Regions from separate parts of the Homo sapiens genome. Here region 1 is linked to region 2. The links come from fine-mapping of genetic effects on gene expression. A gene starts in region 2. The other region holds a variant in brackets. All regions are shown on one strand. Distances are between the middles of the regions.

Region 1 (5,370 bases), 24 kb after region 2:
TCCAGCTGCTTTCAAATTTTTTTCGCTCTTTGGTTTCTGCATTTTTCACTGCAATGTTTCTAGGTATGGTTTCTTCTCATTTATCCCCCTATGGATTCATAGGCTTCTCAGAGATAGACATTGTTATTTTTCATCAGTTCCAGAAAACCTCAGCTAATCTCTTCAAATAGTGCTCTGCCCCATCCTCTCTCTACTCTCCTTCTGGGATTCTATTTAAATATATTTTAGACTTTCCTCCTCTGACTTCTATGTCTCTTATTCTCTTTCATTGTCTTTTATATTTTTTAATCTCCCTGTATTACATTCCAGGTAAATTCTTCTGACCTAATGTTCAGTTTTCTTTTCAGCTTTATCTAGTCTGTCATTAAATTCATCTATTAAGTTTTTACCTTCATTTCTGTATTTTTCATTTCTAGAAGTTCTATTCACTTTTTTTCAAATCTGCCATGCTGCTTTTTATAGTTTCCTACTTGCTCCCTACTTTTTCAAACTTATCTTATTTATTTAAACATAGTAAACATATTGTTACATATAACGTGTCTGATAATGCCGATTTCTGAGGTTTTCATGGGTCTTTCCTGCTAGCTGTCTTTCTGCTGGTTCTTGCTCATGGTTCCTAGTTTCCTTGTGTACCTGTTATCTTCAAGAATGTGTTGGGTACTATTGGAATAATTTGTGACCTTGGAAGATGATAACTTTCTTCAGAGACTTTCATATTTGCTTCTGCCAGGCACCTGAGATCATTACTGGTTCTTAAACCAAGTTCAAGGTTTGATACTCTCTGGACATTCAGATGAGGAACACTTTGACTATAAATCCATGTAAGTTTGCTTCTGGATTACACTCACTCTGAGGTTGTGGTTTTTTGAGATCCCAGCTTTCTATATACGGGGTCTCTTATCATACTCTCAACTTGTGTGGGTCCTGGGCCCTTATCACCCCATGTGGTTCTCGCTAGAACTGGCAAATGCCCTTGAACAAAAATCACTTCTTTTCTTATGAGCTTCACTGTGTGCCCATTTTCCTTTCAGTTAGGCCTAGTAAGTCTTTGCTATCTTGTCTTTTCAGTGCTTTTAAGAAGATGCTCTTTATATTTTATCTAGCATTTTAAGCTGTTTTTAGTGGAAGATATTTTCTGAATAACATAGCCTGCCAAAACTCTCAAATATTATTTAAGCAAAGTGTATTATTCCCTTTCCTCCCAGAAGACCTCACTTTTGAAACTCAAAGCCAGAAGATGCTCCTGTTTGCATTGTGTCATTTCTTCCCTAAGGCAATAAACTAAGTATCTTCCAAGATTAAGTGAGAAAGGGGCTACCGGATAACAGAAAGTGCCCTCCCCAATACGGATACTATCATGAAAGATTTTCTGCCACATGCCTAACATGCTTTCCAGGACATAGTTAGGGCTCAGTAAATAGTTTCTGTTGTCATGATTACTATTTCTATATCTAAACTCGCCTTGTTTAGGAAGCCTTCCTTTAATAACCTTGTCCCATTCTGATCTTTCATTTACTCTATTTTCTCCAAGTACTTTATTTATTTATTTATTATTTATTGAGACAGGGTCTCACTCTGTCACCCAGGCTGGAGTGCAGTGGTGCCATCTCGGCTCCCTGCACCCTCTACTGCCTGGGCTCAAGCGATTCTCCTTCCTCAGCCTCCCAAGTAGCTGGGACTTACAGGCACATGCCACCATACCTGGCTAATTATGTTTATTTTTTGTAAAGACAACGTCTTACTATGTTGCCCAGGCTAGTCTTGAACTCCTGGGCTCAAGCTATCCTCCTGCCTTGGCCTCCCAAAGTGCTGGGATTACAGGCGTGAGCCACCACGGCCAGCCTCTCCAAGTATTTTTTTACCCTCATTGATAGCTTATTGATTCACTCTAGCTGTTTTTCAAATATGCACTATTTCTCAGGAAAAAGCAATGACTGAACATCCCCCAGAAGTCTTTGAGGGTGTCTAAGTCCTCTGTTTCTTTATTTCTCTTATTTATTTATTTATTTGTTTTTGAGATGGAGTTTCACTCTTGTTGCCCAGACTGGAGTGCAGTGGCACGATCTCGGCTCACTGCAACCTCTGCCTCCCAGGTTCAAGTGATTCTCCCGACTCAGCCTCCCGAGTAGCTGGGACTACAGGCATGCATCACCATGCCCAGCTAATTTTTTGTATTTTTAGTAGAGATGGGGGTTTCACCATGTTGGCCAGACTGATTTCAAACTCCTGACCTCAGGTGATCTGCTCGCCTCAGCCTCCCAAAGTGCTGGGATTATAGGCATGAGCCGCTACGTCCGGCCAAGTCTTCTGTTTCTTTGTTAACTCTGATATCAATTAGAATTCTTTCAGCTGCAAGTGACAGAAGACTCAATTCAAACTGCATTAAGCAAAAAAAAAAAAACCATTCTATTGGTTCATGTAACTCAAAAACCAAGTGGTGGATCTTCAGGTACAGTTTGATCCAAGGACGCAATGAATGTCAGGAGAACCTGGTCTTTTTAGTCATAGTGGCTATTTTGCCTTTTGTTTTGGCTTCACCTTCAGGCAGCTCCACTCTGCATAGTAGCATCCAGAATCTCCACACTTACATCCTTACAGTTCCAAAGGCAGTGGGAAAGAGTTTCTAACTCCAGCAAAAGTCCCAGGATTCACCCCTATTGGACTAATTCTGTCAATGCCCACTTCACTGTGGCCAGAGGCATTTGGAGTGCTAATTGGCTACAACTGAACCAGAGGAATACTTCGTGGAACCCACAGTTGAGCCCTTCTGAAAATCATGTGCTGCAGGTGAATTGAGGGAATGTGGTTTCCTAAAGGAAAACCCAGAAGTTTGCCAAAAGATGGGGTAAATGGATACTGGGTATAGAAAAGCAACAACTGTCCACTACAATTCCCAATTGCTCACAGAAAAAGACTCAGTAATGGGGCCTGTGGCGCAGACTAAATTGCATTAACAAGGTGCTGGTTCTTTCCAGGTCCTTCAGACATTTGCACAGATGCTGCTCCGTCTAGCCACACACAAACAGGACAGAGCAGTTGTGT[C/T]CTGTGATGGATATGAAGGCTGCTCTCCCAGCCTCCCAACTGCTCTGGCCTAGGGGACCCTATTTGTGATTTATTCAGTAATGGGTCTCATCCAGGCTACTCTCTTGGCCTCCTCAAGCTGTTTTTCCTCCTCCTGATATAAAAATAACACTTAAACAGGTTCCCCAACCCCATGTCCGAGACAAATCAGATCTCCAGAGATAGCAGCCAAATTCACCCTAGGGTCAGGGTGCAGGGTCCTTATTATATACCCAGTCTGCGAGTGAGCCAAGAAGTAGGGTTTCCAGAAATATGATGCCATGGCCAGAGGCTAAAATCAATCACCCGAGGAGTATTTATTACCCAACTGAAGCCAGTACCTCCTGCTGATTTGCCCTGCCAGACGATGAGTGGAGGCAGGCTTGTGGTCAGAGCAGGGTGGAGATCTGAGAGGCGAAAGGCAGGTGTAGGGTGAGAGAAGGGGCAAGGCAGAGCTCTTCTTGAAAACTGTGAAGTTGCTATGCTTTTAGTGTTGAGCAGTGCTGGTGTGTACCCCCAGCTGGAGTCCTCCTCCACCCCAACCTTGACAGCAGCAGGAGATGGCTACTGAAGGGTCAGAGCCCTCCCGTGCCTGCCTGCCTGCCTGCCTGCCTTCAAAGCCTCATGGTTGGAGGTATAGAGGGGGCAGGTCTGTGTCTTCCATAAAGCTTAGTGGTTATAAATGTGGTGCCTGAGTCTGGGTTTGATTCTTGGCTCCATCCCACTAGCTTTGAGATTTTGATCAAGTTACTTAATCTATTTATGCCTTGGTTTTGTCATCTGTAAAATTGTAATAGTCAAAGTATTTCCCTCACAGGGTTGCAAGGGATTACACAGGACATGGCATATAATGTGTTTTGCACAGTGTGTAGTAGACACTAAGCACTGCACGAACATGCAGGGTCATTATCTACATATGTAATTCCTAATCCTACCTCAATCCTGCAACGTAGATGTATTAGTTAGAGAGAGGCTTGGCTGCTATAACAAAGGTTCAATTTGTCGATCGTTTAAACAAGACAGAAATTTATTTATCTCTAACATAACAATCCAGAGGTAGGCAGACCAGGACAGGGGTGGGGGATGTTCTATCATTTTCAAACTGCATTTTCCATCGTTGGGTTCAGTTTGCTGCTCCGGCTCCCATCATCGTATTGTAATTCTAGCCAGTAAGAAAGGGTTCCCTTTCCTCCTAGGGGTACCCTTCTATCATATAATATATATGTATATAACATTGCTGCTCAAATTTCATGGTCAAACTTAGTCATATGGCCATACTATCTGCAAAAGAAGCTGTGAAATATAATCTTGCATTCAGTTAAAATTGTAGTGGTTTACTAACAGCAGAAGAAGGGTAGAAGAGATATTGCTCTACTAGAGCTCACCCATCTGGCCATCCCACACAAAAAACACAGTTACTGCCCTTCAAAAGGAGGCAAGTCAGAGTTCCATCTGAGTACGGCACCCAGCTGAGAGTCCAGGCTATCTGAGGGGTGGGCAGTTCCTTCTTCCAGGTAGATGGACACCCTATGGTCTGGTGACCTAAAAACTAACAGGCAGGTGATTTGCACCTCCTACTCCCCACAGACAACAGTGGAGGAAGAAGAGGGTAAGCTCAATTAAAACACTGACTCATGCTGAGCACACTGCTACGCGCCTATAGTCCCAGCTACTGAGATAGGAGGATCATTGAGCCCAGGAGTTTGAGACTAGCGTGGACAACATAGTGAGACACTGTCTCAAAAAAAAAAATCCACTTGCAACTGAAAGAATGGCAAACACCCAGCAGCTGCTGGATCTTAATTATCAAATCTGGTTGGGCAGGAATGGCTAAGCCCTTTCCTGGCAGTGGAGTAAGTTCTTGGTCAGCACATTTGACCACCCCTGGTTCTGCTCTCTGGGAAGATCTCCCCTTTCCACTCTCCTATGTAGCCTCTGGCTTTTCCTGCTGGGAAGCTGTTGTTTATCCAATATCCTTTGTCCCACACTGGCAAACTTGTGCTTTCTGCAGTCCTTCCAGCCTTCACAGCCCTCTTCCTGCTGGTGCGGATTTGGAGGGCTGGGAATAAGGCAAGGGAAGGGGTGTCAAACCAGGCTTTGCTGATCAGGCTTATGGTTTCTTTGCCAATACAACACCCTCACAATCTTAGAAGCCTTCTGAGTGGCTCCATGTTTGAGTAACCACAGCCAATGGCCTCATGTAGACCTTATTTTTATGCTTGAACACTCTGGACTTGGTGTTCTTCCTACTCTCCTTTCTCTCAAACTGGTGGTGGCTATCTTGAGTCCATTTGAAAAAACATGCTTGGT
Region 2 (5,342 bases):
AAATTCAAAAACTAGCCAGGCATGGTGGTGGGTGCCTGTAGTCCCAGCTACTTGGGAAGCTGAAGCAGGAGAATCACTTGAACCGGGGAGACAGAGGTTGCCATGAGCCAAGATCGCACCACTGCACTCCAGCCTGGGCGACAGAACGAGACTCTGCTCTAAATAAATAAATAAATAAAAATAGAAATAAAGAAAGAAAAACAAAATGAATAGACAAAGGAGAGTGAAGGGGCCAAGGCAGGGAGGAGAGGCTCATTCCCTCAGAGGCACATCTGAGCAAGGCAGTCAGACACGTTATCACTGGGACCCCTCACTCCTCACCCGGCACGCCCTGCAGCTGTGGCCATGAAGGCCTCTGTGTTCTCCCACACCTGCCCGTGTCACCTCCTCCCCCACTCCCTTCTTCCCAGCTTCAGGGTCAGTCTCTCAGGGACCAGGCCACTCTCCTTTGGCTTGGCTGCCACCCAGCAGTCCTTCCTGAACAAAGGAAGCCCCACAGATACAGAGCCCAGAAAGGTGAATCAGCCAGTCCAATGACACTCTGCAAGCCCATCTCCAGCACCAACACACTCCTAGGCCTCAGGGCTCCTAAAGACAAGGTATCTGCCTTCCAGGAGCAGGGAAGAGAGACCTAAAGGACTGTTGTCAGCCAAATGCAGTAACCAGCATAGTTGCCCAATGTATGTGATACAGTGGGAGCGCAGAGAAGGCAATGGAAGGAGGACAAGGGGGCAGCTTCAGGGAGGAAATGGTATTTTAACCGTAAGGATAAGAATGATTTAGACAGAGGGGGAGGGAGGGGAAGGAAGACAATGGCCATCAGGGAGGGACCCCATCCCCACACCTTGAAAAAGGGCAAAGTTAGGCGTTTATGGGGAAAAGAGATTCCTTTACAACATTTTCCTTGGAACTCTGGATTTTAAATGTAAATGAATCCCCTTTTTCACTCCTGGGGACCCTGGCCAGGAGAAGCTGGGTTGTGAGGGGGGCGCTGTACATACTGAGTACCTCCTAAGGTCCTATTATTCTACACGTCCTCCCACCTAACCTTCCCAGCAAGCCTGCCAGGTAGGGAGACTGTTATCCTATTTCCAGTTAAGACTGAGAGGTAGGGAAAGGAAGTGACTAGCCCAAGATCACAAACATAATGTTTAGATCTTAGATCTATCTGCTTCAAAGCTGCCACTGCATTATACTAAGCCGGATCAAAGGGCATATGTTCCCTAGATAGGACCTGGGTCGTCCTCGGTTCGCCCTTTCCGTGACACTAGCGTCGGACGGCTCTCCGCATCACGGAGTAGGGATTGCTGCCCGCCACTCCCTGTGTGGGCATCCTACTCCCTATCTCTCCAGAGCACGGGGATCTGCCTCTCTTCCAAATCTGGGGGGCGAGGGAGGAGCGGAGGGTCGGCATCCAGCCAATCACATGGCAATATGCAAATAGACACGACCCTGCCTTCTTAGGATTGGCTAACCCGTCAGCGTTATTGTCCAAGTCTCTCCTCTCTAAACACTGAGCTATTCCGGGCGAGGGTTTGCGGCTCTGGAGACCTAGGGGGAAAAAAGTCCTTTGGATCTGGATCTCTGAGCCGTCCCGGTCGGGCACCCTCCTTCCCCGCCCCGGCCCCACCCCCACCCCCAAGGCTCGAAGCTCCCGCAACCTTCGCTGCCTAGGTGTCCCTTCTAGCTAGGGCCAAGCCTGGGAAGACGCCCCCTTCCCTTGGCTGGCCAGGCCCCTCTCCCTTCCCGCAGGACCCCTCCCGGTCCCGTATCTCCCGGGCTGCACATATTTTTTCATTCATGACCCCCAGGTCTGGAAGGGCCGGGCGCCTGGGTCCGGTTCCTTCCGCTCCTCCTTTTCCTTGCTTGGGGAGGACGAGGTAGAGAAAACCAGGGTCCTGACTCACTTTCCCCTTTATATTCCCTCTGTCGTCACTAAGGCCCACTCCTCAGGAGCCCAGAGAGAAGCCGGTGGGTTGGTAGGCAAAGCAGGGCGGGGAAGGGGCAGCTGTGTGGCCCTCTCTGCCTTGTGGCTTCCCACCTTGTTCCTGTCTTCTCCAAATCCAGCCCCATACCCTGAATCCAGGGCCCTCCTCACACATTCTTTTCCTCGGATATGTGTCTTCCCGAAAGATCTTTCCTACCCACTCGCCTGTTCCTTGGTGAGCTGGGTGAGCGCATAACTTGGCGGGGGGTGGGAGAGAACCCGGGAGGAGGAAACACAATAGAATGTTCCCGAGGGTTAGGAACGTCGAAGTGGAGTTCAGAAACGCCCCCGGCCGAGGCCAGAAAGCTGGGCTCGGAGAGCAGGTAGAGCCGGGAGGCTGCGGAACACCCCAGTCTGTCCTGGGTCCCGGGGTCCCCACCCTCCAGGGTCCAGAGCCGCGCCAGGACAGCCGGACTCACCACCACAGTCCGCCGACGTGCGCCGGGCACAGGAGCAGCAGCAGCAGCAGCCCGAGGCGGGAGGGTAAGGGCGGCAGCATCGTGACCGCCCTACGGCCGCCCGGGTGGGCAGGGGGCGAGGCTGCGGGGCGAACCGCGGCGCGCGAGGGCCCGGGCTTCAGTGCGAGCGCGGCGAGCGCAACGGCGGCGGCCGGGAGGCGAGGGATCCGGCGGCGGCGGGGGGGCCCATCCCGGGCGAGGAGGGCGCGGCGGAGGCGGAGAGCGGACGGGGCAGCCAGCGCCTGTGTCTCCTGCGGAGCTCGCTCGGGAGAAGAAATCAGAGCCGGGGGCGGAGGTGGGAGGGGAGCGGGGCCGAGGCGGGGGCGGGGGGCAGGGGGCCGGAGGGAGGTGGCAGTTGCGACAGTCAGGCAGCGGGACTCTCGGGAGCGAGCCGTGCGCCCCGGGGCGGCTGGCGCGGAGCGCAGCGGAGGGCGGGAGCGGGGTGCCGGGGCGGGGCCCCAGCGCGCTTCGGGCTGTGGGACCCGCCCGCTTCGCCCCCTCGCCTCGCCTCTCTCGGACTTGGAGCCCCCCGCCGCTCGCGGCCGCCTGGAGTCGGGGGCAAGGAAGGGCTGGGAAGAAGAGTAGAGAGGGGTGAGGGGGGAGAAAGAGGAGCTGAGGAATGGGGGACGGGCTGGAAGGGAGACGTTTGACAGGTTTGTTGACTGTAAAGAGAGAAAACTTCCCAGGAATGAGGGAGTTTGGGGCGGGGGGCGGTGCGGAGGGAGATGCTGGCGCGGAGGCAAGAGAGGAAGTTGGCCTGGGGCGCGGGGTGCTTCGGCGAGGGTTGTCAAACTGGACCGCCCGACAGGCGGATGCTGGAGGGGTCATCTCTTTCCGTGTCCCTGTTCGATGCCTCATGCCCCTTCGTCAGCCTCTCCTTGAAGAAGGGAGGAAGCCCTGGGCCTCCGCTCTCGCTCCCCCAGCCATCCCACCTCTCAAGCCCGCGTTCTAGGGCGGGGAGGTGGGGGAAATGAGAGGGCAAGAGTAGCCGCTCCAGGGCGTGCGCGCAAGCGCTGGCACTTGTAAGCGAGCGGGAGAATGGAGGTCGCAGACTTTCAAGAGATCGAGGGGTCAGAATTCGCTTTAGCCCGGCCTCGCGTGTCCAAGAGTCCCTGCCTCGAGTTCCTCCCCCAACCTGGCCCGGGTAGAAGGGGTGGGAGAGCCAGCTGCAGGTGAGATGGCGTTTATCAGATTTTCTAATGCCACAAAAATGTCTTTGATGCCCCTGGCCCCCTCCCCACGAGGGGGAGATCAAAGGCTCCGTGGGGAAGAGGGACAGCTCCATTCATCATGCCATTCGGCTGGCAGTGGGCAGCAGCCCCTGCCCCTCCCGTCCCCGACGTGCCCCGGGGTGCCAAGGGACAGGTGGTGTGGGACATTCTCCCTGCCATACCATCAAGAGCAACCATCAACCTTTAAAGCTGTCCTGGAGTGGGGAGGACAGATCGAGTCCCTATGGCAGAAACGTCAGGCGCCCAGAAGAAAGCTCCTGGTTGTTGGTAGAGAGGGGGACCTGAATGTGGGGACTGAGGTCGCTTCCAAGAGAGTGATGACTGAGGTCACTTCCAAACAACCTTGGTGAGCAGAGAGAGAAGACAAGATCCTGAGTCACCCAGAGAGGGGGGACAAGTAGATCAAGATGAGGCCAAGGGGCCAAGGGATGTGACCCCAGGGGAGGAGGCTGATGGGGGAAGGAATGAGCAGACAGAGGTGAGAGAACTGGAGAAGTGTGGACTTGCCGGCAAGCAAGCTCCATGTCAGGGCCCTGGTGTCCAGGCTGCATCAGCTCAATCCCTTGCACTGGATACAGAGAGTTCTGGTGAAAGGGCTAGGACACACTAAAGAAGGGGAAGGGGGCAGGGGGCAGTGGCAAGAGTCATAGAGAGAGGGTCTGGTCTAAGCACTGCCCTCTCCCATTTTAGCCTTTAACAGTATCCAAAGGCCACGCACAGCCCCTGCACCTAGTAACTTTGCACACAGTTGCTGTTTCTACGGGGCAATGCCAATCTGGACAGTTCCTAAAGGTCAATGCCAACTCTGGACACTACACATTCAAAGACATACCCAGTTTGGGTGCACACTCCAGCCATGTGGTACCAAATAGGCAGCTAGAGGGCTCTGGGGGTCCCTGGAGGCTACAGGTGGCCAGTGGCCAGCCTCCTGGGAGCCACTGTCTGGGTTCCGAACCCCCTGCCCAGCCCTGCTCCCACCCTGCTACTGTTATTGCAGATTATGAAATGCTCTCCCTATCCTGCATTCTTCTCCGAGGCAAGAATTTTAATGTATTTGTCTTTGTCATCAGGGGACCTGGGCTCTGAGACCGCCCTGCCTCTGCCTGAGGAGGGAGCGCCCCAAATCTAGTCCCTGCTGCCTCCAGACCCAGCCTCTCTCCATTACCACCCCTCCCCCATGCCCTAGCCCTGCCCCTCGCCTCCCCTTCCTAAGACACAGTCTCTCTGTGGGGTGGATAAAAATGATGTTATTGAAACAACAGAATTGGGAGCAGTGGCAGGGAGCAGGGATCAGCTCAGGAAACTGGGGCGTTTGCCAAGAAGCCTTCTCCCCCGCAGGCGGCCTTTCTGCCCCCACCCCCCACCTTTCCTGCAAACATACACAGCTGGCCCCACCCCTCCTGCAGCACTCACTCTAGCCAGATCTTGCAGAATCTTTTGCCATCTCTGGACTCCCCAAGCCCTTGTCCCTCCTGCACTCAGTCCCATTCCAGAATCAGTTGGCCCAGTAGTGCCTGCAGAGCATTATAGGGTTGGGGGGTCGGGGGGAGGTGGGCTGGAATCTGTGACAGGCAGGACTCCTGGAGTCCCAATTCCTAGGGCTTCTGCCCCAACAGCACCCTTTTGCTCACTCTCCTTTGCCCTCTCCGCATCCCCATCAAGGGG

Direction of the effects. Alleles are on the strand shown, and positions count from the first base shown. SD is a standard deviation of normalised expression in the study named.
As copies of C replace T in region 1, the expression in skeletal muscle of the gene that starts at base 2,719 in region 2 goes down (large effect, 1.4 SD a copy in FUSION).

What was found. PIP is the estimated chance that this variant, and not a neighbour inherited with it, causes the effect. A credible set is the group of variants that fine-mapping cannot tell apart.
Region 1: its variant is the best candidate, but not a certain one, in a credible set for the expression of WNT6 in skeletal muscle (FUSION, PIP 0.76).

What each region holds. Positions count from the first base shown.
Region 1 is chr2:218,832,949-218,838,318 of GRCh38, reverse strand. No RefSeq gene overlaps it. Among named protein-coding and RNA genes, the nearest start is that of PRKAG3, 3.8 kb to the right of the region's middle. The variant C/T (reference allele first, on the strand shown) is at 3,043.
Region 2 is chr2:218,857,182-218,862,523 of GRCh38, reverse strand. WNT6 (Wnt family member 6) reads right to left here and starts at 2,719. Exons shown (of 4, transcript NM_006522.4): 1 at 2,407-2,719. The coding sequence starts at 2,486.